7 linked regions of the Homo sapiens genome follow. The protein of the gene in region 3 interacts with the protein of the main gene of each other region in a biochemical or structural test. Each region holds a gene or a part of one and is shown on either strand. Other genes may lie near its edges. The genes, in order: CYTIP, SLC9A3, SNTG2, GRM5, SLC2A7, RGS12 and CIT.

Evidence for each region.
Region 1: the proteins of SNTG2 (region 3) and CYTIP interact in a test that uses a peptide from one of them, tested with the Homo sapiens proteins (one large-scale study listed by IntAct).
Region 2: the proteins of SNTG2 (region 3) and SLC9A3 interact in a test that uses a peptide from one of them, tested with the Homo sapiens proteins (one large-scale study listed by IntAct).
Region 4: the proteins of SNTG2 (region 3) and GRM5 interact in a test that uses a peptide from one of them, tested with the Homo sapiens proteins (one large-scale study listed by IntAct).
Region 5: the proteins of SNTG2 (region 3) and SLC2A7 interact in a test that uses a peptide from one of them, tested with the Homo sapiens proteins (one large-scale study listed by IntAct).
Region 6: the proteins of SNTG2 (region 3) and RGS12 interact in a test that uses a peptide from one of them, tested with the Homo sapiens proteins (one large-scale study listed by IntAct).
Region 7: the proteins of SNTG2 (region 3) and CIT interact in a test that uses a peptide from one of them, tested with the Homo sapiens proteins (one large-scale study listed by IntAct).

What each region holds. Positions count from the first base shown.
Region 1 is NC_000002.12:157,427,090-157,430,589, reverse strand, and holds part of CYTIP (cytohesin-interacting protein), read left to right. Parts: coding exon 1-31; intron 32-3,169; coding exon 3,170-3,239; intron 3,240-3,500. UniProt on the Homo sapiens protein: By its binding to cytohesin-1 (CYTH1), it modifies activation of ARFs by CYTH1 and its precise function may be to sequester CYTH1 in the cytoplasm.
Region 2 is NC_000005.10:486,450-489,949, reverse strand, and holds part of SLC9A3 (sodium/hydrogen exchanger 3 isoform 1 precursor), read left to right. Parts: intron 1-1,473; coding exon 1,474-1,634; intron 1,635-3,500. UniProt on the Homo sapiens protein: Plasma membrane Na(+)/H(+) antiporter. Exchanges intracellular H(+) ions for extracellular Na(+) in 1:1 stoichiometry, playing a key role in salt and fluid absorption and pH homeostasis.
Region 3 is NC_000002.12:1,233,849-1,237,348, forward strand, and holds part of SNTG2 (gamma-2-syntrophin), read left to right. Parts: intron 1-3,500. UniProt on the Homo sapiens protein: Adapter protein that binds to and probably organizes the subcellular localization of a variety of proteins. May link various receptors to the actin cytoskeleton and the dystrophin glycoprotein complex.
Region 4 is NC_000011.10:89,041,983-89,045,482, reverse strand, and holds part of GRM5 (metabotropic glutamate receptor 5 isoform a precursor), read left to right. Parts: intron 1-3,500. UniProt on the Homo sapiens protein: G-protein coupled receptor for glutamate. Ligand binding causes a conformation change that triggers signaling via guanine nucleotide-binding proteins (G proteins) and modulates the activity of down-stream effectors.
Region 5 is NC_000001.11:9,023,624-9,027,886, reverse strand, and holds the start of SLC2A7 (solute carrier family 2, facilitated glucose transporter member 7), read left to right. Parts: upstream 1-1,463; 5' UTR 1,464-1,541; coding exon 1,542-1,592; intron 1,593-2,812; coding exon 2,813-2,911; intron 2,912-4,263. UniProt on the Homo sapiens protein: Probable sugar transporter. Even if its physiological substrate is subject to discussion, it is able to transport glucose and fructose. Does not transport galactose, 2-deoxy-d-glucose and xylose.
Region 6 is NC_000004.12:3,310,021-3,313,520, forward strand, and holds part of RGS12 (regulator of G-protein signaling 12), read left to right. Parts: intron 1-3,500. UniProt on the Homo sapiens protein: Regulates G protein-coupled receptor signaling cascades. Inhibits signal transduction by increasing the GTPase activity of G protein alpha subunits, thereby driving them into their inactive GDP-bound form.
Region 7 is NC_000012.12:119,716,821-119,720,320, forward strand, and holds part of CIT (citron Rho-interacting kinase), read right to left. Parts: intron 2,042-3,500; coding exon 1,879-2,041; intron 1,590-1,878; coding exon 1,425-1,589; intron 1-1,424. UniProt on the Homo sapiens protein: Plays a role in cytokinesis. Required for KIF14 localization to the central spindle and midbody. Putative RHO/RAC effector that binds to the GTP-bound forms of RHO and RAC1. It probably binds p21 with a tighter specificity in vivo.

The sequences.
Region 1 (3,500 bases), about 160 Mb from region 3:
ACCTGATCAGATCGTCCGGAAACCTGCTAACGTAACTATCTGTCTAGTTCCCGTGGGGCTTCAAAATGTTATGTTTTCTCATAAAGCCTGATGAGTGAATAAATAGGCCTTTTGTTCAGCATTACAAGACGGAGTGAGGCAGTGCACCGGAGCTTTAGAGTGGGGTACAAACATTATCAGTTCCTTTTGTTTCTCAAGATTCCTCACACTTGAACATACTGTCAACATCTGAAGTCAGAGGACATCAATAGCCCAAACGTCTGTGTGGGAAGGATGGCCTTTACAAATGTATTTTTTTAATGTCAAATTCAATTAAACTGGCACACATTCTCTTTAAACTGGGAAGAACTGATCCAATTTTCATGGTTGATATAATCCTGTAGCTAAAACAAATCAAAGGTCAGAAGGGCTGAGTTTTTCCTCTTATGTGACAAGCCACCTGTTTTTCTCTTCTAGTGTTCCATTTGGAAGGAAGAATAGTCTGTTCAACCCTCCCCACCCTGAAACACACATACTCACACCACATGTTCCAAATGTTCCAAACTTCTTTTTTTTTTTTTTTTTTTTGAGACGGAGTCTCGCTCTGTCGCCCTGGATGGAGTGCAGTGGCGCGATCTTGGCTCACTGCAAGCTCTGCCTCCCAGGTTCACGCCATTCTCCTGCCTCAGCCTCCCTAGTAGCTGGGACTACAGGCGCCCACCACCATGCCCGGCTAATTTTTTGTATTTTTAGTAGAGACGGGGTTTCATCGTGTTAGCCAGGATGGTCTCAATCTCCTGACCTCATGATCCACCCGCCTCCGCCTCCCAAAGTGCTGGGATTACAGGCATGAGCCACCGCCCCTGGCCCCAAACTTCTTAATAGAACACTGGCTTTCCCAATTAGAGGTTTGACTGATTTTTCTACCATAACAATACTAGCACCTAATAAAATCTTATTAGGATAGTTAAATGATGAAATTCGCTCATTCATTAAAATCATATTTATTGAGCAAATACTATGTTTCCAGCTCTGTGATAGGCTCAGGAGAGACGAAGATAAAGACTCTCTTAGTACGTTAATAGTTATGGAAGGAAATGGCTCAGAAAAGCCTGAAATTTAAGTAATGTGTATATTTCAGTTATTGATAACTACTATGAGAAAAGTGCAAAACAGCAATGGCCTGTCATGCTAGGTAAGAAGGCTGCTAGTTTGGCTTAGATGTGTAAAGTGGTCTTTTCTAGGGAGGCGATATTTGAGTTGAGATCTAAATGAAGAGAAGGATGGTCAAATGAACTCCTCGTAAGAGCACTTCAGGCAAAGAGAGAGGTCTCTGAGTGCTCACAATGGGCTTGGCATGTACAAGGGAAAGAGAAAAAGACAGTATAATTGGTATTTGATGGATTAGAGAGGGTATAATAAGAAATGAAGCCAGAGAGTTGGCCTGGGGGCAGACCATGGATCTCTTTGGACATGCCAACAAGTTTGGGTTTTATTCTGATTGAGGTGGGTCATATATTGTGTCATTTATTCTTCACAGCCACCCATGAGGTTAATTTTATTCCTATTTATAGATGAAGTGCCTGAAGCTTAGAGGGGGCTTAGTTAAGGTCACATAACTGGTAAGTGATAGGGCTGGGGTTTGACCACCTGCTCTGGATGCCAGGATCTGTCCTTTTCAGCTACAGCTGCTCCTTGGAAGCTGCCAGTAGAAAATCTGCTGGATGCTTTTCAGTGATTCTGGTGTAAAACTTCAAAGGATGCTTTGGGTGTTTGTGAGAGCAGATTTGAAAGATGGTGGTGGTAACAAATTGGGTCCAACTCTATAGGTCCTGTGAGTTCAGGGTAAAGGATGAGGTGCTTTTGCTCTAGAGAACCCTGGATCCAAAGGAGAGGAACCGTGCAGAGTCTGAGGGGAACTGCTGGTAGTTAGAGTCAGAAAGCATGTTCCACATGGGTGAAGAGGGTAGACCACAGGTAAATAGGGGTTGTAGATGGAGGTAACTGTTGGAAATCCGGGAAAATGGGAGACAGTCTGTACAAATACTGAGGAAAATGGCCAAATCAATGGTTGCAGTTTTGCCCATACACATCTATTGCTTCAGCAGGTCAAACTGACATTCAATCCCAATGAAACAGATTCATATGGATTCCCACTATTTCTCAGAGAGTCAAGATCACCTTAAGGAGAAAACAGACAGTATATAGCTTGCTACCACCTGATTATTCCTGGCATGATGCTATTAGAAGTAGAAGACTGATCTCCACATTTAATGCTTTTACCATGCCTTGAAAAATTCCTTGCATCTTTATAGAGAGGTACAGCTTAATTACAAGAAGGAACTTGAACCAACACTTTAAAAATTGGTGTGTGATTCACAAATGAAATTTTTAAATCATATTCAGATTGATGGTTTAGTAGTCAAAATAAAAGCCTTTAACTTGAACACACAGAACAAATCAAATCACTCAGAATAGAACAAGTATTTTATTTTTAGAAATGTGTGTGGTGTGGGAAGAACAGAACACTGGTAAGTTGATAATTCTAGGATTAGAGTTTGTAAACTGAATGTTTTGAGATAAAGAATCATATGAAGGTTATTATGTCATAGTAGTTGTACTTCTGTTTCTTCTAGTACCAAAATTATAAGGAGATTTACAGAGGTAAAGGCTCCTAGAATCCTATGGAGGAAAGGATTTCTCCCTCTTTCAAGAAGTAGCATGTTAATTCCATGGTTGTGAAAGCCCCTAGAGCCTATTATTTCTGTTGTTGTGCCCCTTGTGTTCAGCATGGTTTCTAGAATCTGGTACATAGTAGATGCCCAATAAATATTTACCAAATGAGTGAGGTCATTCAGCCCATCCCCACAAGAACAGATTCTAGTAGAGAGCAGCCATCATTGTCACATAGTGACTTCTATAAAATAAGCTATAGTTTACAAATTAACTAGGATCCTTTCTTTTAGCCACCTTCTCAAGGGGAGTTTTCCCCCATTTTCTTTCTCTGTTATCAGAAGATTTGGCTTTGGTCCAGCTACTCGAAGTGCCATGAGAACTGTAACATTTGTATTTCGTTTTTAGTATAGTATGTGCTCAAAGTGTAGTACTCTGTAGTATGGTACTTATTTAAACGAATCACTCATGTTACTCACTCCCCACCTTCCTCTTCTTTTTTTTTTCCTTAAAACAGGATAGAGACTCTTAATGGAACAATGATTCTGAAAAGAACGGAGCTTGAAGCAAAGCTGCAGGTTTTAAAGGTAATTTAATTTAATGCAGTGAGGCACATTTTTCATCCTTGAATGTGTGAGTGGTAAAATAAAGATCTATTTGAGGAACTGAGATAGCCCTTGAAAAAGAAATGTCGTGGTGAATCTAAACTGCTGAATTATCAAGAGCCGCACAATTACCTTTGGAGGAATATCAAATTCTGCAAACCAGTGTAAATCACTTTCTTCCTTCCTCCTTCTGTGTGTCTATGAGGCTCAGAAAGGCAACAGGAAGGCATGCCACTTGAAGAA
Region 2 (3,500 bases), on a different chromosome or scaffold from region 3:
GCGAGAGCTTCAGGCATCAGAGGCCCTTGCACAGGCAAAGCACGTGGTGGAGAAAGGCCTGGAACATGCGGTCTGGTGGCATGAGCCCTCCTGGCACGGCCGTGGGCAACTGTCCAGACGGGAAGGCTGCCGGCCGGGGAGTCTGAACGCGGCCGACCCCAGGACATCCATGGGGGCCATCACTGCCCTGGGGGCGGCCGTGCCAGGAGGCCGCGTTTAAAGATGACCTTGAAGGGGATTCGTGTCCTGAGGCCTGAGTTTGGAAGAGGAGAAGGCTTGTGTGGTTCCCGTTCCAACATGGAACTTTAACTCCCTGAACGCTGGTTCTTCTGGCATCTGTCACTTCCTCGGGGTGTTGTGACACTGGCCAGAGGCTGCTGGGGCTTAGGAGCTCACAGCAAACTCGGGGTTTAGTCACCGCAGAGATGACCCTGATCTGTCCCCTCCCAGGCGCCAGCACAGAAACCCCTGGCCAGGCTGCTCTCTGCTGTCTCCTGGGGCCCGTCCGGCTCCAGGGACAAACCCCTCCTCAGCCCGAGCCTCAGCCCAGAGGGGTGGTGGGCTCCGCTCCAGCCCAGCAGAGAGGCAGCAGCTGTGCGGGGGGACTCGTCGGGGGCCTCCCCCTCCCTGGGTGGTCTCTCCCACACCCTCACGGCCCTGGCGTCTCCTGGTCCCTGGACCCTCACGGCCGGGAAGGCAGCAAGGAGGCCCAGTGTCCTCTGAGCCCTGCGGCCGTGAGAGAGGGCAGACTCTCGGGGCCACGTGGCCACACTCAGTTCCCTGAGGGTCCCCTGGAGCCTGGCACCCCCACGTGGCCTCCTCGAGGCCTGAACCCTGGGTTGAATGGCAAAGACTTGTGAAGGATAAGGCTGCATTTCAGTAAAACCTCCCCAGCGAGGGGCACCAGAGCCCACAGGCAGATGCGGGGAGGGAAGCCGGCCGGGAGCTAGGGACCACATGGACCCACGTCTTCCGGGCCCCCTTGCTCCCACCGCAGCCCTGCTCATCCCCACAATCTGCCCCCACACCCCCAACGGCCCTCCCACCTGCCCCTCCCTGGCCGCGCCCCTGGGTGCTGTGTGTCCCGGCTCCGGGCCCGTCCTGGGTCAGCCCCACTTGCTTCTCCTGGGCTGGGACGCCACTCCAGGCGATGGGCCCCCATCCCTCCCCAGCATGCGGTGCCCCTGCACCCACCTGCCTCCGTTCACCCAAAGATGAAGGAGAGGGCCAGGGCCAGGGTCAGTCTGTCTGTCTGTCTTGCTCAGATGGGGTGGCCCCCTCGGAAGACAGCAGCCTTCCCTGGAGGGGGCTGGGGGTCTGTGGGAGGGACGCAGGAAGCTGACCCAGCTCCCCACGCCACCGGCGCCAGCCAGACGGGCTCCGAACCCCGACCCGTAGGCGAGCGCCTCCCCAGGGCCCTCCTCCTCGGGTGGCAGGCCCTGCAGCTGCCCCGCGGCCCGGCTTGTCTTCCAGGCGACCTGCAGATTGGGCTGCTGGACTTCCTCCTGTTTGGCAGCCTCATGGCGGCTGTGGACCCGGTGGCCGTCCTGGCCGTGTTTGAGGAGGTCCATGTCAACGAGGTCCTGTTCATCATCGTCTTCGGGGAGTCGCTGCTGAACGACGCAGTCACCGTGGTGAGCAACGGAGCCACCGCTCCAGAGCGGGCGAGCCGTGGGAGGCCTGGGCCCCGTCTCACCCCCCATCGGTCAGTCAGCAAAGGAGGGCGTGAAACCCTGTCCTCAAACTCCCCTCCCGGGGGCGTCCCGTCCCTCCACCTCCTTCCTCCCAGCTCAGAACGACTGGCAGCTTTCGCGAGGCTTCTTTGTATCTTCCACAGTTCCCAGGCCCTGCCCGCCCACTCCATAGCTTCAGGGTTAATGATGGCGCTGTTGAAATCCCGCCCTCCTGGTCCCCAGAGCGTCTGTGACTTTGGACCCACAGTTACTGCCACCCATTCCTGAGTTCCTAAAAAATACATGAGTGGCCGGGTGCGGTGGCTCACGCCTGTAATCCCAGCACTTTGGGAGGCCGAGGCAGGTGGATCACCTGAGGTCAGCAGTTCGAGACCAGCCTGGCCAACATGGTGAAACCCCGTCTCTACTAAAAATACAAAAATTAGCCAGGGGTGGTGGCACGCGCCTGTAATCCCAGCTACTGGGGAGGCTGAGACAGGAGAATCACCTGAAACCAGGAGGCAGAGGTTGCAATGAGCCGAGATCGTGCCATCGCACTCCAGCCTGGGTGACAGAGTGAGACTCCATCTCAAATAAAATAAATACGTGAATAGCAAACAACAAAATCCCATAGGAACCACGTAATCTGCCAGGGCCGCCATGACAAAGTACCGCAGGTGCAGTGCCTTGAACGACGGTGGGTGTCAGTGTGGTGGGTGTCAGTGTGGTGGGTGTCAGTGCGGTGGGTGTCAGTGCGGTCTGGATCACGGTGTCAGTGTGGTGGGTGTCAGTGCGGTGGGTGTCAGTGTGGTGGGTGTCAGTGCGGTCTGGATCACGGTGTCAGTGTGGTGGGTGTCAGTGCGGTGGGTGTCAGTGTGGTGGGTGTCAGTGCGGTCTGGATCACGGTGTCAGTGTGGTGGGTGTCAGTGCGGTGGGTGTCAGTGTGGTGGGTGTCAGTGCGGTCTGGATCACGGTGTCAGTGTGGTGGGTGTCAGTGCGGTGGGTGTCAGTGTGGTGGGTGTCAGTGCGGTCTGGATCACGGTGTCAGTGTGGTGGGTGTCAGTGCGGTGGGTGTCAGTGTGGTGGGTGTCAGTGCGGTCTGGATCACGGTGTCAGTGTGGTGGGTGTCAGTGCGGTGGGTGTCAGTGTGGTGGGTGTCAGTGCGGTCTGGATCACGGTGTCAGTGTGGTGGGTGTCAGTGCGGTGGGTGTCAGTGTGGTGGGTGTCAGTGCGGTGGGTGTCAGTGTGGTGGGTGTCAGTGCGGTCTGGATCACGGTGTCAGTGCGGTGGGTGTCAGTGCGGTCTGGATCACGGTGTCAGTGTGGTGGGTGTCAGTGCGGTGGGTGTCAGTGTGGTGGGTGTCAGTGCGGTCTGGATCACGGTGTCAGTGCGGTGGGTGTCAGTGCGGTCTGGATCACGGTGTCAGTGTGGTGGGCTCCTGCGGGACCCCGGTCCTGGACTTGCAGACGGTGCCTTCCCGTGTCCTCACGTGGCCGTCCCTGCGTGAATGTGCCCGAGTCGCCTCCTCTCACAGGGACACGGGTCCTATTGGATCAGGGTCCACCCCGGTGACCTGACTGTGCCATACTCCCCTTTTTCACGCTCACATGCCCAGGTCCTGGGGACTTTAACATGGGAATTTCGGGGGCACAATTTGGCCCATGACAGAGGTGAAGGGAGGGAAACTGAACTGGTGCTAACGGCAGAGCCCGGACGGTGTGTGGGTGTCCCTGGAGGAGATGGTGTTCCGGGAGGCGGGGACGGTGCCTCCACAGAGGCCCAAAGGCCACATCAGCGCTCAGTAAGGCCAGGAGAAGATTCAGGAAC
Region 3 (3,500 bases):
CTTGACTTCCCCATGGATGGCGAGTGTCTGGGAGCTGGTTTGGTTTCTTCTCGGTGGACCCCGGGGTGCCAAGCGCTCTGCCTTCACTTGGTGTGGCTTTGCTTACAGCAGCTTCCTACAATCTCATGTGTGTCCATCAAAGAGCATGTTAGCTCCTGAGCAGCAGATGCTCTGTGAATTTTAGCTCCGATAATGACCTTGGCCACGTGAACACCATCCTAAAAGGCCTGAGCGGCCACCATGAGGCGGGTAGAGAGGCCGGGTTCCAACTGTGAGCCACGGAGGAAACTCGGAGGAAACCGTGAAACTCGGAGGAAACAAAGGCCCAGAAATGCCCTGGAAGAAGCGGCTCCTGATCTTGCATCCAGACGTGCCTGAAAGCAGATTGCGTGACTTACACTAGTTACCCGGCTTCTATAACAATAAACCAAACAGTGAACCAACAGTGAGCCACGCTGTGAACTTTCTTTCCCTGTTTCATTAACATGTTAGTATCTGCCATCAGCATTCATGTCAACAACTTTCACAGTTTCTGTTCATTTGATACTTAATTTTTATTGCTTTCTTTGATAAATTACAGACTAATAATGTTTATATGGTACTTACGGGCTTACAAATAACTTTGTTTCAGTTATCCCATTTGTTCCTCTCAGTATTCCTATTTTGTGGTACGGTTGGCATTTGAAGCCCATCGTACGGACAAGGAAAGCCCAGCTCAGAGGTGAGATGTCCAGCCTGCCTCATGAAGCTATGGCATAAACGTGCCTGGACTGCAGACGCCTTCCTTTTTATTGCAGGACACAGCCGTCTGCCCCTCGTGCGAGTCCGTGAGCCTCTGGGGCTCCACGTGCATTCACTGCCTCAGGGGGCAAAGCTGATGATCTTTCTCAAGACCACAGCATCGATAAAGGGTCCTTCATGGAGCCTGGGTCCACTGTCTCTACTCACATCTTATTCCTGCTACATCAATGATGGTGTAAACCTCCAAAGGCAGAGTTAGGACTCTGGACTCAGATTCCTTCTCACCACTGACTTTACGAGGATGACCACAGTACTGACCCTGCTGAGAGCACCCAGTGTTCAGTCATCCATGCATTTGGTGCATACGTCACCAACCCTGAGAATCAGGAAATGCCAACTCCCTGAGAAGACACTGTCGTTAGTACATGTGAGCTGGAGCCAAGCGGTGACCATGCGTGTCCTTCACACGCCCTCACGCGCAACCAGGGACCCCCAATTCATGAGAGGGGGGACCCCTGCCCCCATGCTGCCCTGAGGTCCCTGCAGGCCCCACCAGGCACCCCCGATTCATGAGAGGGGGCGCCCCTACCCCACTCTGCCCTGAGGTCCCTACAGGCCCCACCAGGCACCCCCGATTCATGAGAGGGGGCGCCCCTACCCCATGCTGCCCTGAGGTCCCTGCAGGCCCCACCAGGCACACCCTATTCATGAGAGGGGGGCCCCTGCCCCACGCTGCCCTGAGGTCCCTGCAGGCCCCACCAGGCACCCCCGATTCATGAGAGGGGGGACCCCTGCCCCACGCTGCCCTGAGGTCCCTGCAGGCCCCACCAGGCACCCCCGATTCATGAGAGGGGGCGCCCCTACCCCATGCTGCCCTGAGGTCCCTGCAGGCCCCACCAGGCACACCCTATTCATGAGAGGGGGGCCCCTGCCCCACGCTGCCCTGAGGTCCCTGCAGGCCCCACCAGGCACCCCCGATTCATGAGAGGGGGGACCCCTGCCCCACGCTGCCCTGAGGTCCCTGCAGGCCCCACGAGGCACCCCCGATTCATGAGAGGAGGCACCCTTACCCCCACGCTGCCCCAGGATCCCTGCAGGCCCCCTAGTCTAGCTGGATCCAGGAAAAGCTGCCCCTGGCCCACACTGGCACCACCCCCTGTTCCTCCCCAGGCCTTTGGAGAAGAACAGGCTCTTCTGAAAGAATAAAAGCGTAGAGCTCTGAGATGGGGAAAATTGGAGGATGGGACACAGGGAACTTTTGAGGATTCTTCTAAAGTCTGTTTTTGGTCTGAGAGTTGGTTGGCCAAGAGTATGGAATACATGACTGTTTATCGAGGTGTTCACTGGTGAGTTGTGTGCGTGTGTGTGTGTCCTGTAGCTCAATGTAAAATATGCCTAAAAATAATAGTCTCTGACCTCTTCATGTGGGGAGCCAGGGAACTTGGCTGTCGTCCGCAATAATCTACTTGACCCAGCTGTTTATTAACCACTAGATTAAGGTCAGCCTTGCTTTGTATATGTCGCACCAGTTAACATGAACAAATGAGAAATGATGGCAATGAACCCATTTTTAGTTAGCACTTACTTTAATAAGAATTAATGGATACTTGGACAAAAGTGTAGATATAAGTCTGTCAATATTTAATAAGCACCTAATTCATGTGGAATATTACACAATCTGCCTAAAATAGTCTCCCAGCATTTTGAAGTGTAAAAATTAATTTATTATAGCAGACATCCAGGACCAAAGGCCCCACGGGAAGCGATGGATCCTGAGGGACAGGTGCTCCCCAGGAGGACCAGGAAAGGTGATCAGAAAGGGCTGTGCGAAGGTGGAGGCAGAGCTGCCTGCCCTCCCCATGCAGGGGACCTGCTTCCTCTGGCTTCTTCCCCTCTCCGGCTCCACACAGTCACCTCCACCTTCACCTCTGTCCTCCTGCCAAGTCAAGAGTACCTTGTTCATCGCCATCAGGCAGAATATCAGCCACAAGTAGATAAACCTCACATTCTGATTCAAGAAACACTAATTAGAATGAGAATGACCCCTAGACAGGGATGTCAGCTTTTTAAAAGAATGACTTTTAAAATAGCAAACTCTGGTCTGATAGATTTGGCTCAAAAATATGCAGAACTGTGTTATACCATCTCTGTTTCCTACCCCTTCTCCTACACACCCCACCTTGCCTAAGAAAGCAGCGATGACACTCACATTTGAAAGATTATTAGAACATAGCTTAGTGATGACTTATTTTTTTAAAAAAATATGTTTGCTTTGTTCTGTATTTTATCTTCAGTTAGCTGCTTGAGACCATGGAGGTATTATGAGTCATATACATTAATATGCATTGTTTTCTTTTTTTCTTTTTTTTTTCAGATAGGGTCTCACTCTGTTGCCCAGGCTGGAGTGCAGTGGTGTGATCTCGGCTCACTGCAACCTCTGCCTCCTGGGTTCAGGAGATTCTCCTGCCGTAGCCTTCCGAGTAGCTGGAGCTACAGGTGTGTGCCACCATGCCCGGCTAATTTTTGTATTTTTCGTAGAGATGGGACTTCACCATGTTGGCCAGGCTGATTTCGAACTCCTGACCTCAAGTGATCCACCTACCTCAGTCTTCCAACGTCCTGTGATTATAGGCGTGAGCCACTGCGCCCGGCCAATATGCACTATTTTCTTAAGAAAAAGTCTATAAAAGTGTACATGACATTTCTCTTTTGCAAATAGGCATATGTAAAGTATGTTTTTAAAAAATATTGCATGACAG
Region 4 (3,500 bases), on a different chromosome or scaffold from region 3:
GAATAAAACAAGGGGCATTTCTGTATATATAACATTTTATTTTTTCTAAAAGGGGTTTTTATGCAAACAATTTGATTGGATCTTCATAGAATTGTTCTCAGAGAAGAGCAAAACTACTAAGAGTTGCTGCTTCTGAGAAGAAATCTAAGTTAAGAAATGAGGTGGAATATTTTATGCATAATTTTTATATACATACACTTTAAGCTCTATATTAAATACATAATTTACCTACTGAAATATAACAATTACATGAAAACATTCTATTTGTGGGAAAACAAAAGACAATAGAAATTGCAATGCCAAATTCAGGCAAAATATTTAGGTTGTACCACCAGGATTCAGGAGAGAACAAACCTTGGAATTGGACATTCAAAGGTTGGAAGAAATACTCGTTTGCTTACTGTTTATGTGGTTGTGTCAAGAAATATTTATCTTGCTTTGATCCCAAGCAAGTATGTGAATAACGAGGTTATGTAGTGTTAAGTCTTATGATTTATCAGTACAAGAATGGCATGGTAGGAATTTTCACAAGGTGAAACTCACCTCCAGGATCAGAAAAGTGAGAGTCAAACAGGATACAGCTTTGTTGGGTACTGTGGGAACTCTCTAAGGTCATGCTTTTTTTTTTTTTTCCTCCCCACTTGGTTTTTCAGAAAGTCTTGGTGGGATCTTCCATGAAATGATAGTGTCAGTTATCATCCAGTCTCTTCCTCTCACTGGGTTGAGGTGATTTTCTCTAGCATTAGGAGAATTAATCCCAGTACTTGATAATTTATCTTCATATTCTTATAATTATTCTCCTTTGTTCCATCAATATTCTCTTTCTTGAAGAGTATGGAAATTTCCAAATGCTTTCACATGAACCATTAAGGTCTGTGAAAAGATGTGGTCCTATTTTCAAAAAACATTTTTTCTCCTAATTGCCTATGTGTTTTATACTTAAACCTAACCGTACTGTGTCACGGGTACCACAAGATGTTCCTTCAAGAAAGTGTATGTCATCACAGAATTCCAGAGGAGTGTACAAGGAAAACTGGGTTTCAGCTTCGATGTTAATCTCTTACACTTGCTATTTCCTGTGATTTATGGCTTTAGTAGGCTGTGTGACTGGGTATTTACTGTGGCTTGTTCTATTACACAGAAATTATGCCTGGAACTTCTAGGCAAAGAGATTTATAGTATAAAACAGAAGAAGAAGAAAAAAGAAAGCATTTTTTAAAGAGCAGATCAAACTAGCTCTTCAACTGGGCAGAGGAAAGGAATATGCAATGACTCAGAAGAAAAGTAAAATCACTTCTTTTAATGGAGTAAGAACTCTCTCTGCACTAAGGAAATGTAAAGGGTCCTTTGCCTTAGTACTTTTGCAAACCTTGATACATGTGCCCACGATGACACAGGATTGATGGTGCTTGCCCATTTAGCAGTGTGGCAGATTGCATTGATGACGTCTACTAATGGTGCTTCTGTATTCACATCATTTGCTTTTGACTTGATAATTCCCTTTTACTTTCATGTAGCACTGGCCTTCTGACACTTTGACCAATAGCACTTGGTTGACGTGAGAACTTTCTTCCTAGTTTGTGTTGGAACCCTATTGTCACCCTGTGAAGTATGAGAGCACCCAGGTTTTCCAAATGAGTGCATCTTAGACCAGTTGACCTCAAACATGTGAGAGCGTGCAATGCAGATCAACAAAATTGCCTTTCCAACCCACAGCTAATTGCAATCACATAATTGAGCCCAGCTGAAACCCTCAACATTACCCAGCTGACTATTATTGTTAGCAATAAAAAATGCCTTCAGGATGGAGTCCAGTATAAACATACTCATCCCTCTCACTTTAGTCTCTAACTTCCCTTCTCCCAAATCAGATACTATTGCTTAAACTTCAAAAGCAAAAAAAAAAAAATAACATGCATTAATATTCTTGAAATTCGAATATGAAATAAAACAGAATATATGCTGTGGGCAAGAAAGAATATTTAAAATGCTTTGCCTATACTTCTGTGGCTAGAGATGTGATAGTTCCCTTAAAGTCTGAATGTTTCAAATAGTTAAGCGCTTGAATATATTTCATTATTATATTCTTTACCTTGATCTAGTTCAACTTCATTAAGAAAAGTAATTATTGTATTGTGTTTTATACAAAAAAAAATTTTATATTGTACTTCCTGGGTGATTGACAAGATTTCACACTTCACTAGTTTTCCTGACTTTAGTTGAAAATCTACAGCATATCCACAGGGCCTATTAGAGTGCCCATCATATAATATGTGCTCAAAGACTATTTGCTGAATAGAGGAATTTGTGTTAGTGAAGTACGTAGCTCACCATTTATGACTATATAGTATGTGGATAAATAGCAGGCACTTGTAAGTTTTTAGTTTTGCTTCTTTATAAAAATGAGGTGTCAAAATGACTCCCTTGATTAATTGTAAAATCCTGTTCACGCTACACTTCATTTTCTGTTTTCACTGGTTCTTGAATTTATTATTTCTGTCTAATGACAGGAATGTTAATTTGTTACAGCAAAAAACAAATCAGTGATGTTCTGGGGAGAAAAATGTACCAATAAATTGTACTGGTAGCATACATTATTGAAGATATGGTCTTCAGGTTAACCTAGAGATTGCAATTTCAGGTTATAATATGACTTCCCATCAGTTATTTACTTAAAAATGTGATAACAATCCAGCTTTGATTGAAGGAACTTCAGTATGATTCATAGTCTATATGCTTGTTTGACTTCTAAAAACTGGGAGTACACTTTTCCCATCTCAGCATTTCTACTAATTATCATTACACAAGACAATTTACCTTGGAAAAATAATAAATGGTACTGTGGAAGCTACTGAATAATTTTTAAAAGGACTTTATTTTGTTTCTCCAGGAATTGAACAGTGCTGAGAGTTAAAACAAATTTTGGGATGATCATGGTAATAATAAAGACACATAAATTACTATTCATTCCATAGAATGTTAACACTGTGTCTCAGGCCAGCATTTAATCTTCTGTATTTTACGGTTAAGGAAACTAAAATAGAAAGGTCACATAACTCTACCTTGCTTGTCAGATAATTAGTTGCAGAGTTGTGTCTTGGAACTCAAGATTTCTGTCCAGAACTTGGTTTCCAAAACATTGCTGGAGATTATTAGTCAGGTTCCTTTTTGCCATTTTTCTACCTCTCCATTGCATTGTTTTATTCACTCTCCCTTTATCTCAGTGGCACCAATATTTCTAAACAATTGGCTGAAAGTGTTAATAACTATCTGAAATAGTAGAAGGGACCACAAATGAAATAATTCATCTAAAAATTAGCCTTCACAGGAGAATTGCTTGAACCTGGGAGGTGGAGGTTGCAGTGAGCCAAGATCATGCCATTGCACTCCAGCCTGGGTGACAAAAGCAAAACTGTCTCAAAAAATAAAAATAAAAATTAGCCTTGAGAAATAGCATGATCAATTTGCTCTTGATCTGTAAATTAGATGAAGTGCTCCTT
Region 5 (4,263 bases), on a different chromosome or scaffold from region 3:
ATTCTGCTTTGATCACTTCTCTTAAAGGTCATGTTAATTAAAAAACATGTTAATGTTTCCATGTTCCCACATTTCATAATTATCCTTTGAAACAGAAGTCTGGCATTCCAATCAATTAGTTACTCCTAATTTATTCAATCATTCTCTACTTTAAAAAAAAAATGCTAGTAGAAATGATTCTGAAATAAGCACCTTTGTCCAATATTTTATTGACTTATTTAACACTATTTAGTGTAATTAGAAATAATAACTGTGTTTTTCTGAAAGTGTTTAATTTGTTCTTTCCCCCAAATGGACAATTAGTCCAAATGCACAAGAGGAGGCATATATGAAGAACCTAGGAACACACAGAAAGGAACAGCAAACACTGGGATCTACTTCCGGCTGGAGGGTGGGAGGAGGGAGAGGAGCAGCAAACAAACACTGGGAAGTGGGCTTAATACCTGGGTGATGAAATAATCTGTACAACAAACCCCCGTGGCACGAGTTTACCTATGTAACAAACCTTCACATATACCCTGAACCTAAAATAAAAGTTAAAAAAAAAAAAAAAGCCAGGTGCGGTGGCTCATGCCTGTAAGCCCAGCACTTTGGGAGGCCAAGGCAGGCGGATCACTAGAGGTCAGGAGTTCTAGACCAGCCTGGCCAACATGGTGAAACCTCATCTCTACTAAAAACACACAAAAAAAGGCTGGGTACGGTGGCTCACGCCTGTAATCCCAGCACTTTGGGAGGCCGAGGCGGGCAGATCATGAAGTCAGGAGATCCAGGCCATCCTGGCTAACACGGTGAAACCCCGTCTCTACTAAAAATACAAAAAAAAAATTAGCCAGGCATGGTGGCAGGCACCTGTGGTCCCAGCTACTCAGGAGGCTGAGACAGGAGAATGGCGTGAACCCGGGAGGCAGAGCTTGCAGTGAGCTGAGATTGCGCCACCGCACTCCAGCCTGGGCGACAAAGCGAGACTCCACCTCAAAAAAAAAAAAAAAAAAAAAAAAAAGCTGGGTGTGGCGGCACGTGCCTATAATCCCGGCTACTTGGGAAGCTAAGGCAGGAGAATAGCTTGAGCCCAGGAAGCCGAGGTTGCAGTGAGCTGAGATTGCGCCACTGCACTCCAGCCTGGGCAACAAAGGAAGACCCTGTCTCAAAAAAAAAAGAGGCATACATGGAAAAATGACACAGAAAAAGCATCCTAGATCCAGGTCACAGCCTCACTGGGTCTCTGAAAGTCCTCATTTCTGCGGACCAATGTCAGGCAATGTTTTTTCTCTCTCCTTGGTGCAACTAGGGAGCTTTCGGCTTGGGGCTTGGTGGGTGCAAAGACGAAATTCGTGCTGTGTATGATTTGTGCACTGGCAACGTGTGTCTTATCAACATTTCCAAGGAGAATTTGCTCCTGGGGAAAGTCAGCAGGGTCCAGAGAGCAAAAGGATCATAAAGCCAGGTAGGCCCAGGGGAGAAACAGCCGGTCTTTAGGTGGCTGGCGCAGAGCAGGTGTCACTTGGGAGGTAGAGCACACCTGTTCTCCCACCTGAACAAGGATGGAGAACAAAGAGGCGGGAACCCCTCCACCCATTCCATCCAGGGAGGGGGTAAGTGCCAAGACTAGGAACCTGTCACTGTCCCTCTCCCACCAGCTGTGCAGACCTGTGGAGGGAGGTGAAGGCCGTGGAATGCTTTTAGCAAGGAGCGGGTAGCGTGCTTCCTTTTTCTTCAGGATAACCAGGCCTGGGAGAGCCATGTGGAGAAGCAGCTATGCTCAAACCTCATGGCTCAGACATGGGCCAGGGTGGCTGAGCGAATGCTGGGAGAGCGGATGGTGCTGGAGATGCCTCTCTCCCTTCCACCCCTGCTCCCCTCCGCTTCCCCTACCCTTAAAGATCGAGGGGAGATGGCCTCTGAAGAATGCCCGAATCCTGCCCTTCTGTCTGGTTGTTCCTGGATGTGCAGAGCTACGGGCTGTGGGCAGCCAGGCAGCTAAGTGTGAGGGTTGGGGTGAGGACATGTGGAACAGGAGTGAGGGGTGGAGGGGGCAGTGGGGAGGGGGCATGCACCAGGGCCTTGGCTCTAGGACATGGTCAGAGACCCTGCCCACCTGCTCCTCAGACTTTGGCCCTCAGGCCAGTTCCCCTCCAAGCTGCCCTGGGTGTTGTGGCAACCATGGAAAGCCTGGCCCTGAGCACAGGCGACTGCCGGGATTTTCCTAAGGGCCTGTTCTAGAGGCAGAGGCAAGCAATGAGTCCCTCTGTCTGGGATGCTCTTCCCCCCGATGCTTACACAGCTGCTCCCTCTCATCCATTCTGGTCCCGGCTCAAAGGGCGCCTGCTCAGAGAGGCCTTCCCTGCCCTGCCCACCCTACTGAACACAGTCTCTCATTCCTCACAGGCTGCTACCCCACCCATCACCCTATTTTATTGTCCTCACAGCATTCTAGCTATTTGGAATTATCATCTTTGTCTTTCTTGGACGGGGTGGGCTCCCCTCACTAGAAAGTGAGCTTCTTAAAGGCAGTGCTTTGCTGGGCCTTTTTCCTAAAGCATCCCCTACTTCACACTTGGCCTCCAGGGCCTAGTACAGGGCCAGGCACGTAGCAGATGCTCAGATACATCCTCAAGGAGGGAATGAATGCGTGCAGAGACCTCAGCCCCCAAAAGCCCCAGCCCTGCGCCACCTCCTCCTCTTTTCCGGGGGCACGGCCTGGGATCCCCCATCCCCCACTTCCAGCCCAGGCTGGAGGGAGGTGGAGGCCCAGCCACTCCACTTCCCGAGGCCCAAGCCCACAGCGTCCCGACCTTGGACTTGTCTCCTACAGCGGCTCCAGCCGACGCTGTTGCTGGCGACACTGAGCGCGGCCTTTGGCTCAGCCTTCCAGTACGGCTACAACCTCTCTGTGGTCAACACGCCGCACAAGGTGGGCACAAGGTGGGCACAAGGTGGGCCGGGCAGCAGCTGACCGGGGTCGTGGGTGGAAGGTAGCCGCCATCTTCCTCCGTGGAGGCTGCCATCTTGCCTGTAGGAGGCACCATCTTGCCTTTGGGAGCAGCCAGCTTGCCCTAGTACCCTGGATGCTCACCCCTGGAGACCAGGGCGTGGCAGGAGGTGTTTCCCCCTGGAGTGTCGTCCTTTCCGGGCACATTGGGATGCTGGGGGACCTGTTCCATTTTCCAGCCCAGTCTTTTTGGGCCTCAGGTCCCACTGCTCTCACCTTGGGTAGGCCCCTTGTTGATTGGAAAGAGAATGGGGTCAAAGATTGAACTCTGTGGCATTTAGGGATTGGGGCAAAGGGGAAAAAAGGAAAAAGAGAAGGGGCCCTTGCAGGTGTGGAAGACCCTGAGGGCAGAATGTCCCCAAAACCTAGTAAAGGATGAGAGTCAAGGAGGGAGGGACAGCCTGTGCTGATGAGCTCAGATGAGGACTGAGAACTGACTACAGGCTTGACCTTGGTATACGTCTATGCTTACGCTTGTATACATATATTAGCATGTCTACAGACACTGTATTACATTTGTTTGTGTATTACGTATATATACATATATTAGTGTACTTACAATTATTACCATGGATGGAACCTCCGAGTCAAGCAATGTACCATCACTTAATCACATTTAATGCTAACACATTCTTTATAAGGTACATCTTGTTTCCATAACTGATGAGGAAATTAAGGTTTCTGGAGGTTCTGTAACTTGCCTGAAGTCACACAATTAGTAAAAATATTTCCTGGGCTGGGAGCGGTGGCTCACGCCTGCAATCCCAGCACTTTGGGAGGCTGAGGTGGGTGGATCACCTGATCACCTGAAATCAGGAGTTCAAGACCAGCCTGGCCAACATGGTGAAACCTCATCTCTACTAAAAATCCAAAAATTAGCCAGGCATGGTGGCGGGTATCTGTAATTCCAGCTACTCGGGAGGCTGAGACAGGAGAATCACTTGAACCCGGGAATCAGAGGTTGCAGTGAGCCAAGATCATGCCACTGCACTCCAGCCTGGGTGACAGAGTGAGACTTCATCTCAAAAAAAAAAAAAAAAAAAAAAAAAAAAAAAAAAAGAAGAAGAATATTTCCTATGGTGCCTCTGGCAGAGTAAGTCGTAAGTCTCTCAAAAGTAAAATTTTTTTTTTCTTTTCTTTTCTCTTCTTTTTTAATAGAGACAGGGTCTCCCTATGTTGGCCAGGTTGCTCTTGAACCCTTGGCCTCAAGCAATCCTCCCGCCTCGGCCTCCCAAAGTGCCAGGATTACAGGTGTGAGCCATTCCCAGCCAAAA
Region 6 (3,500 bases), on a different chromosome or scaffold from region 3:
GCTGGGACCCGGGAAATGGCAGGTGTCCTCTGAGGGGAACCGTGTGGGGGAGGAGCTGGGACCCGGGAAATGGCAGGTGTCCTCTGAGGAGAGCTGAGCAGGAGAGGAGCTGGGGCCTGGGAATGGCAGGTGTCTGCTGAGGGGAACTGTGTTGAGGAGGAGCTGGGACCCGGGAATGGCAGGTGTCCGCTGAGGGGAACCGTGTGGGGGAGGAGCTGGGACCCGGGAAATGGCAGGTGTCCTCTGAGGGGAACCGTGTCGGGGAGGAGCTGGGACCCGGGAAATGGCAGGTGTCCTCTGAGGGGAACCGGGCGGGAGAGGAGCTGGGGCCTGGAAGGCCAAGGCAAGGGCTGTCTCCAGTCCACGCTGCACCCCAAGAAGGGAAGTGTGGAGAGGTATTGACTGGTGGCTCAGTAAAATGGCCTGGAAGTGGCCTTGGTGATTCCAGAATCTGCCAGCTCACTCCCTTTGGCACCGTGTCCTGCTGTGTCCAGGGCGGGCAGGTCCATGCTGCTCTGGGTCCAGGGAAGGTCTGGGAAGAGTGGCCAGGGACTTGGAGGGCCTCTCAGGTGAATGATGGGAGGTGGCTGGATGCAGGGATGGCCAGTGCGGGTCTGCATGGGGCGGGTATCAGATCGTCTGGTGTGTGTGTCCCTGATGAGGTGGGAGGGGGGTGCCAGGTGGGTGTTCGGCAGCTGTGGGCACTGTGAGGTGGTGGTGGGGGGAGGCTGCTGGGACATGATGACTATGGGAGGGTGTGAGGTGGGCAGGCGCCTGCGGGGGCAGGTCCCAGGTGGAGAAGGTGGCGTGGTGTCTTGCTGTCTCAGGCCCTTCCTCTGTGCATCCACGTAAGTGTGGGTAAGCCAAGAATAGCCTGGGTTCAAATCCACCTTTGCCGTTAATTGGCTGTGTGCTGGTAGACAAGTTACTTAGCTTCTCTGTGCCCCCACTCCCTCATCTGCACGCGAGAATTGTAACAGAGCCTTCCTCAGAGCGATGATGGTGTTTAGGATGACATGCGCTGCACAGCAAGTCCTGGCCGTGGCGGCTGCCATTGCAGCCCGTGGGGTCACCCTGGAGGCCGTGATTGCTGATGTTGTGCTGTTCTTGTGCCTTGCTCTCTTCTTCTCGGTGCCCCCAGACTCTCTCTGCCTTCGGAGGACGGCGTCTCTCTCGCCTCACACTGTGTGCACGGGCAGTGCGGACGGGTGCTGGCTTGGTCTTTCCAGCCCTGCCTCGCTCGGGGCCTGCTGCATCGTAGCTCAGGCCTAGGACCCATCTCTGTACCTGCAGGTCTTGGGTGCTGCCCGGCATGAGTGGAGGAGTTTATCAGAACAGGACCTTTTATAGGAGGTTTTAACTTTAGAAGGGAATAGAAAAGTGTCATGGCAGCAATATTTATTTCTAGATCACCCTGAGTTTTTTTTCTTTGTTTTGTTTTATTGTCCTCTTTACACCATGAGTTTTTAATGATGAATGAGTGAAGGAGTGACAGTGCGGGTTGAGCATCCCTTATCCAGATGCTCCAGAATCGGAAACCCTCTGACACCGATGTGGCACCTCAGGCATAGCTGAGCTAGTGACACCTTTGCTTTCTCATGGGTCAGTGTACACAAACCTTGTTTCATGCACAAAATTATCAAAAGTACCGCACAAAATTACCCTCAGGCTGTGTGTATAAGGTGTATATGAAACATAAATGAATTTCCTGTTCAGACCTGGGTCCTATCCAAACATATCTCATTACGTATATACAGATGTTCCGAATCAGAAAAAATCCACAGCCCTTCTGGTCCCAAAAATCTCTTCTAAGGGACACTCAGCCTGTGTGACGTGGTCGGTGACTCCTGATGGGAGGTGGCAGTGCTGTGCGGCGAGTGGGGACCTTCGTGTCACATCCCATCTGTGCCTCAGGGCTTGGATGAATTACTTCTGGCTGGACCTTGTTCCCTTTTCCACACAGTGAAGAGGCTGGGTTAAATGATCTCCAGTCAAGGTGATTCAGAGTTAGCTGGAAGGTGTGTAGGGGGAAGTTGGAGCTTCCTGGCCTTGCCCCAGACTTACTAAGTCAGAGTCCCTGGGAGGTGCAGGGGCTTGGGAGCAGGCGTTCTTACTGGTAGCCCCGATGGTGTAATGGAAGTTCAGCTGGAATCCAGTACCCCATGGTCTTCTAAATTTCACTGTCTGTTCTGCTAGCTTTACTATTAATTGATACAGTTTTAAAAAAAATTAAACTATAAGCTGAACTTATGTGATTATTTTGGGAGGCCAAGGTGGGAGGATTGCTTGAGGTCAGAAGTTTGAGACTAGTCTGGGCAACATAGTGAGACCTCGTCTACAGAAAAATTAAAACATTAGCCAAGGTTCACTGGGTGTCTTCTCCTTGGCCCCTTTGCCCACGTGGTGAACACTGTGGACCTGTGAGGGTGTGAGGGTTGCGTTCCTGCGTTCTGGACTCTTTACCCACTACTGAGAAGCAGCCGTTTGAAATATGAGTTGGCAAGGAAGATCAGCATGTAGGCTTAGACCAAGACGGTATGTGCAGCCTCCTGAGCTAACTGGGCCTGTGCTTGAGCCCAGTGATGAGCAGCCTCAGCAAGAGGAACCACCACCTGAAAGTCGGGGTCTTACCTGGCCAGGAGAGAGAGGAAGATCACGGTGCTGCTGAGATTCTTGTGCTTGACCAGGAAGCTGATCTCCGGGAGCTGTCTCAAAGACTGGGATGAATGTGGAGATGGTCCTGATGTCCGGGGAATATTCTGCCGAAATCAGAGCAATTTAAATTGCCAGAAGGAGGTGAAGGGCAACCACAGGTTCCAAGGAAGACAAGCTGAAACAATGCAAACTGGTTTTATATTAGATACGTGACTTAAAATATCTCAATACAGTTTTCTCCAAAAAAAAAAAAATAGTTAGCCGAGTATGGGGGTGTGCTTGGTATGGCTTGAGCCCAGGAGTGAGTTTGAGGCTGCACCGAGCAATGACTGTGCCACTGCACTCCAGTCTGGGCAATGGAGTGAGACCCTGTCTCTAAAAAATAAAAACAAAGAAACGTGATTATAGATAATAAGATATTACTTACATGAGTTACAAACCATTTCTTTTTAATAAGCAGAGGCCCATGACAGTAAGAGTCTAGTAGAAAAATTGGGTGGACTGCATAGAAGACATTGTCCATCATTATGTCACACAGTGTGAGGCGGATGGTGCGAATAAACTGGGAAGTCATGTCTTTCATTGAGGCAGCATCTATTCCTGTTTGGAAGAGAAAGCCGAGAGGTGTTCTGTTCCCCGAGGAAGCCATCAAGGCTTCATGACCTGCTGTCCTGGGGCTGTTCACAGTGATAGCTGGCACTTGCCGGGAACAGCAGCACCTTTGTTGTGTGACAGATGCTTTTCTGAGCGTGCTTTAGTGAGACCGTTTCACGCATGTCCTGCTTTCCCTCTCCCCTCACCCGTGACAAAGTGATTCCCCCTTGTATTTGTTTCCTGGGGTTGCT
Region 7 (3,500 bases), on a different chromosome or scaffold from region 3:
GGGATTGGAAACAACCTAAATGGCCATCAACAGGAGCCTGGCTTAACAGGTGAATTGCATGCTCACACCACGGAATACTGTGTGGTTCTCTGAAAGAATGGGGTAGGTCCTTATGTACTAATGTGAAACCTCTAAGATAGCACTTTAATGAAACGAAGGTGTCTTGCAGTGTATACTGTAGTGTGCTATGATATTTATAAGAGAAAAAAGGCCTGAAAGATAAGCTTACGTTTTCTTGTTTTTGTTTTTGAGACAGAGTTTCAGTCTTGTTGCCCAGACTGGAATGCAATGGCTTTATCTTGGCTCACTGCAACCTCTGCCTCCCAGGTTCAAACAGTTCTCCTGCCTCAGCCTCCCAGGTAACTGGGATTACAGGCATGCACCACCACACCCGGCTAATTTTGTATTTTTAGTAGAGACAGGGTTTCTCCATGTTGGTCAGGCTAGTCTCGAACTCCCAACCTCAGGTGATCCGCCCACCTCAGCCTCCCAAAGTGCTGGGATTACAGGCGTGAGCCACCACTATAATATTTATAAAAGAAAAAAGGCCTGAGAGAGAGATGTGCTTATTTTTTCATATTCTTTTTTCTTTTCTTTTCTTTTTTTTTTTTTTTTTTTGAGATGGAATCTCACTTTATCACCCAGGCTGGAGTGCAGTGGGGTGATCTCGGCTCACTGCAACCTCCACCTCCTGGGTTCAAATGATTCTACTGCCTTAGCCTCCCAAGTAGCTGGGACTTCAGGAGAATGCTACCACACCCAGCTAATTTTTGTATTTTTAGTAGAAACGAGGTTTCACCATGTTGGCCAGGCTGGTCTCAAACTCCTGACCTCAGGTGATCCGCCTGCCTCAGCATCCCAAAGTGCTGGGATTACTGGCGTGAGCCACCATGCCCAGCCTATTTTCTCATATTCTTTAAATATAATCACACAATGTAAGATACATGAATGGTATAGACATGTGGTCACATATATGAACCAACACTGAGGATGGGGAGCCAGGAGACTGACTTCTTTCTTTTTTTTTTTTTTTTTTTTGAGATGGAGTTTCCCTCTTGTTGCCCAGGCTGGAGTGCAATGGCGCAATCTCGGCTACCGCAACCTCCGCCTCCCGGATTCAAGCAATTCTCCTGCCTCAGCCTCCCGAGTAGCTAGGATTACAGGCATACACTACCATGCCCAGCTAATTTTGCATTTTTAGTAGAGACGGGGTTTCTCCATGTTGGTCAGGCTGGTCTTGAGCTCCCAACTTCAGGTGATCCGCCCACCTCGGCCTCCCAAAGTGCTGGGGTTACAGGTGTGAGCCACCGTGCCTGGCCAAGACTGACTTTTTAATCTTTAACCCCTAGTATTACTTGTAATTTTTACCATATGCCCACATGTCTTAGTCGACTAAAAGAAATTTCCATACAACTCCAACGTACCCTCTGGAGTTGAAGACTCCTTTCTGCGGCTGGATGGCGGGGCCAGCAGGCTCATGGCACTGGGCTGGTGCTCTGGCGACCGCACGATGGCGGACATGGCGATCTGCTGCCTCGCGGTGGCTGGCGTGGATGGGTGTGGGTGGTCCGTTGCTTTGCGGTGGGCAGCTGCAGAGAGACCAGGACAATGCCTTTTGGTTAGCTGGGTCGCCTAGAGGACCAAACTAAGCCGAATGTCCCTGGGCTATCTTTCAAGGACCCAAGACCAAAAGAATATGCGTCACATCAACTTGGCAATGCACAGGGGCCATACGTTTTTCAGACATGGGATGTCTGGTCTGAAAGCGTATGGGCCATAAACGAAGACACTGAGCTAGTTAGTCTTGGCTGATCTCACTGAGATCAATCCTCTGCCTTTTCCACATCCTTGAGCATTTTGGAGAGAGTGAGCCCCTACCTTCCTCCCGGGCGGACCGGAGCTCGATGCGGGTCTTCTGAAGGGCTTCCTCTAGCTCTGCACAGCGAGCTTTCTCCTTCTCCAGGGCCAGCTTCAGCTCATTGTACTGCAGAGGAACCTGTGTGGGTAAAGCAGGGTCCTCTTTCCGTCGACTAAATAAACCCTAGCAATGGAAACAGAGATATCTCCTAACTCCTGGAAACTGGCACTTGAAACTAGCTAAAGGAAATCTGACTCGGGAGGAGCAAACCACAAAAGCCAGGAGCATACTCACTGTAAGTGTATTTAGTAAAAATGGCATGTGAAGGGGGGGAAGGGTAGGCTGAGCCACAGCCCGTTCCAGCCGGCTGAAAAAAATAGGGGTGCGGAAGTTTTCACCAAGAGGATTAAAGATGCTTGAATGGCCACCACCTCTTCCTCTAGCATTGCCAAGACAGGAGAGTCATGTCCTGAGTCTTTCCCATTCAAAAAATGGAATCAGGAGAGTATGGAGTATGGAGTCAGGAGAGATGGTTCAGAGGTCACTCTTGCCTTGGAATATGTCTCATGATGCTCAGTTACAAGACACAGAGATGAGTGTTTTGTAAAAGGAAGCAAAATTTTAAAAGGAATGCTAAAATGAGGTCAAAACAAGGGGCTTACTCAAAAAAAAATGCAAATGAAAATATTTACTATACATGGAAAAAAAAGGAAAACAGAATAATGCAACTTAAAAAAAAGGTAACTAAAAAAAATAACAAATGGAAACACCCTAACTAAATCAAGTGACATAACCAGGTAACAGTTCACTGCTAAAATAAAAAAGATTAAATATCATAAGCATAACAACCATATACAGTCACGCAGCATGCAAGAAAATCCTTCCCGTGCAGCCAACGTCTAGTGGGAGGCGGCCTCTGAATGTTGTGCTCATGCCCTTACAGCGAAGATGGCACCGGAAATATTGAGACAACTGTCAACTTCAGCCCTCCACTCCTTCCTCCTAGGTATTCCAAGTCATCAAGGCCTCTCCTGCAAAACCACTGCCACTGCTGCTATGGTATGCTTCTGCATTTGGAAGGAAACTGCAAGCTTCTTCAAGACTTTTCTGGAACTGAGAACACCTGGCCAAACCTAGTATGAAGGCTTTAGTGGTTTGGGAAAGCATGTATAGATCAGGCTTATGAAAAACAATCTTCTCATGTGCACTATGTATAACCCTGCCCCTAGTTTGTAATTTGTCTCCTGCAATCTAAAAGGGTTGTTCAGTACTTGGCAGAGGGGAGAAGTGTCCAGTCAGACACTTCAGGCAGGTCACCCCAGCTCCCTGAGTTCTAGTCTCTTTGTGAGCCGATCAAAAGGACTGGACTAGATCACTGTTAAAGTCCTTTCTGGAGTGTGGTACGAGAGACCTGAACTGCTGAAGCCCCATACTTGTGACTTGCTAACTCCCTCTAGAGTCATGTATGCATGACTTGGTATAAATCTTTCTCTCTGCATACATCCCTCTGCCCCAACTGCTATGTGTGTGGGCTGGGGAGGGATTACTTCTTTAACAAAGATACTATGATTTGAATGGTCATAAACAAAAAGTAGTTTGTTAGACTTGATCACTGATATCTTTCAGTAAGACCTATTATAAT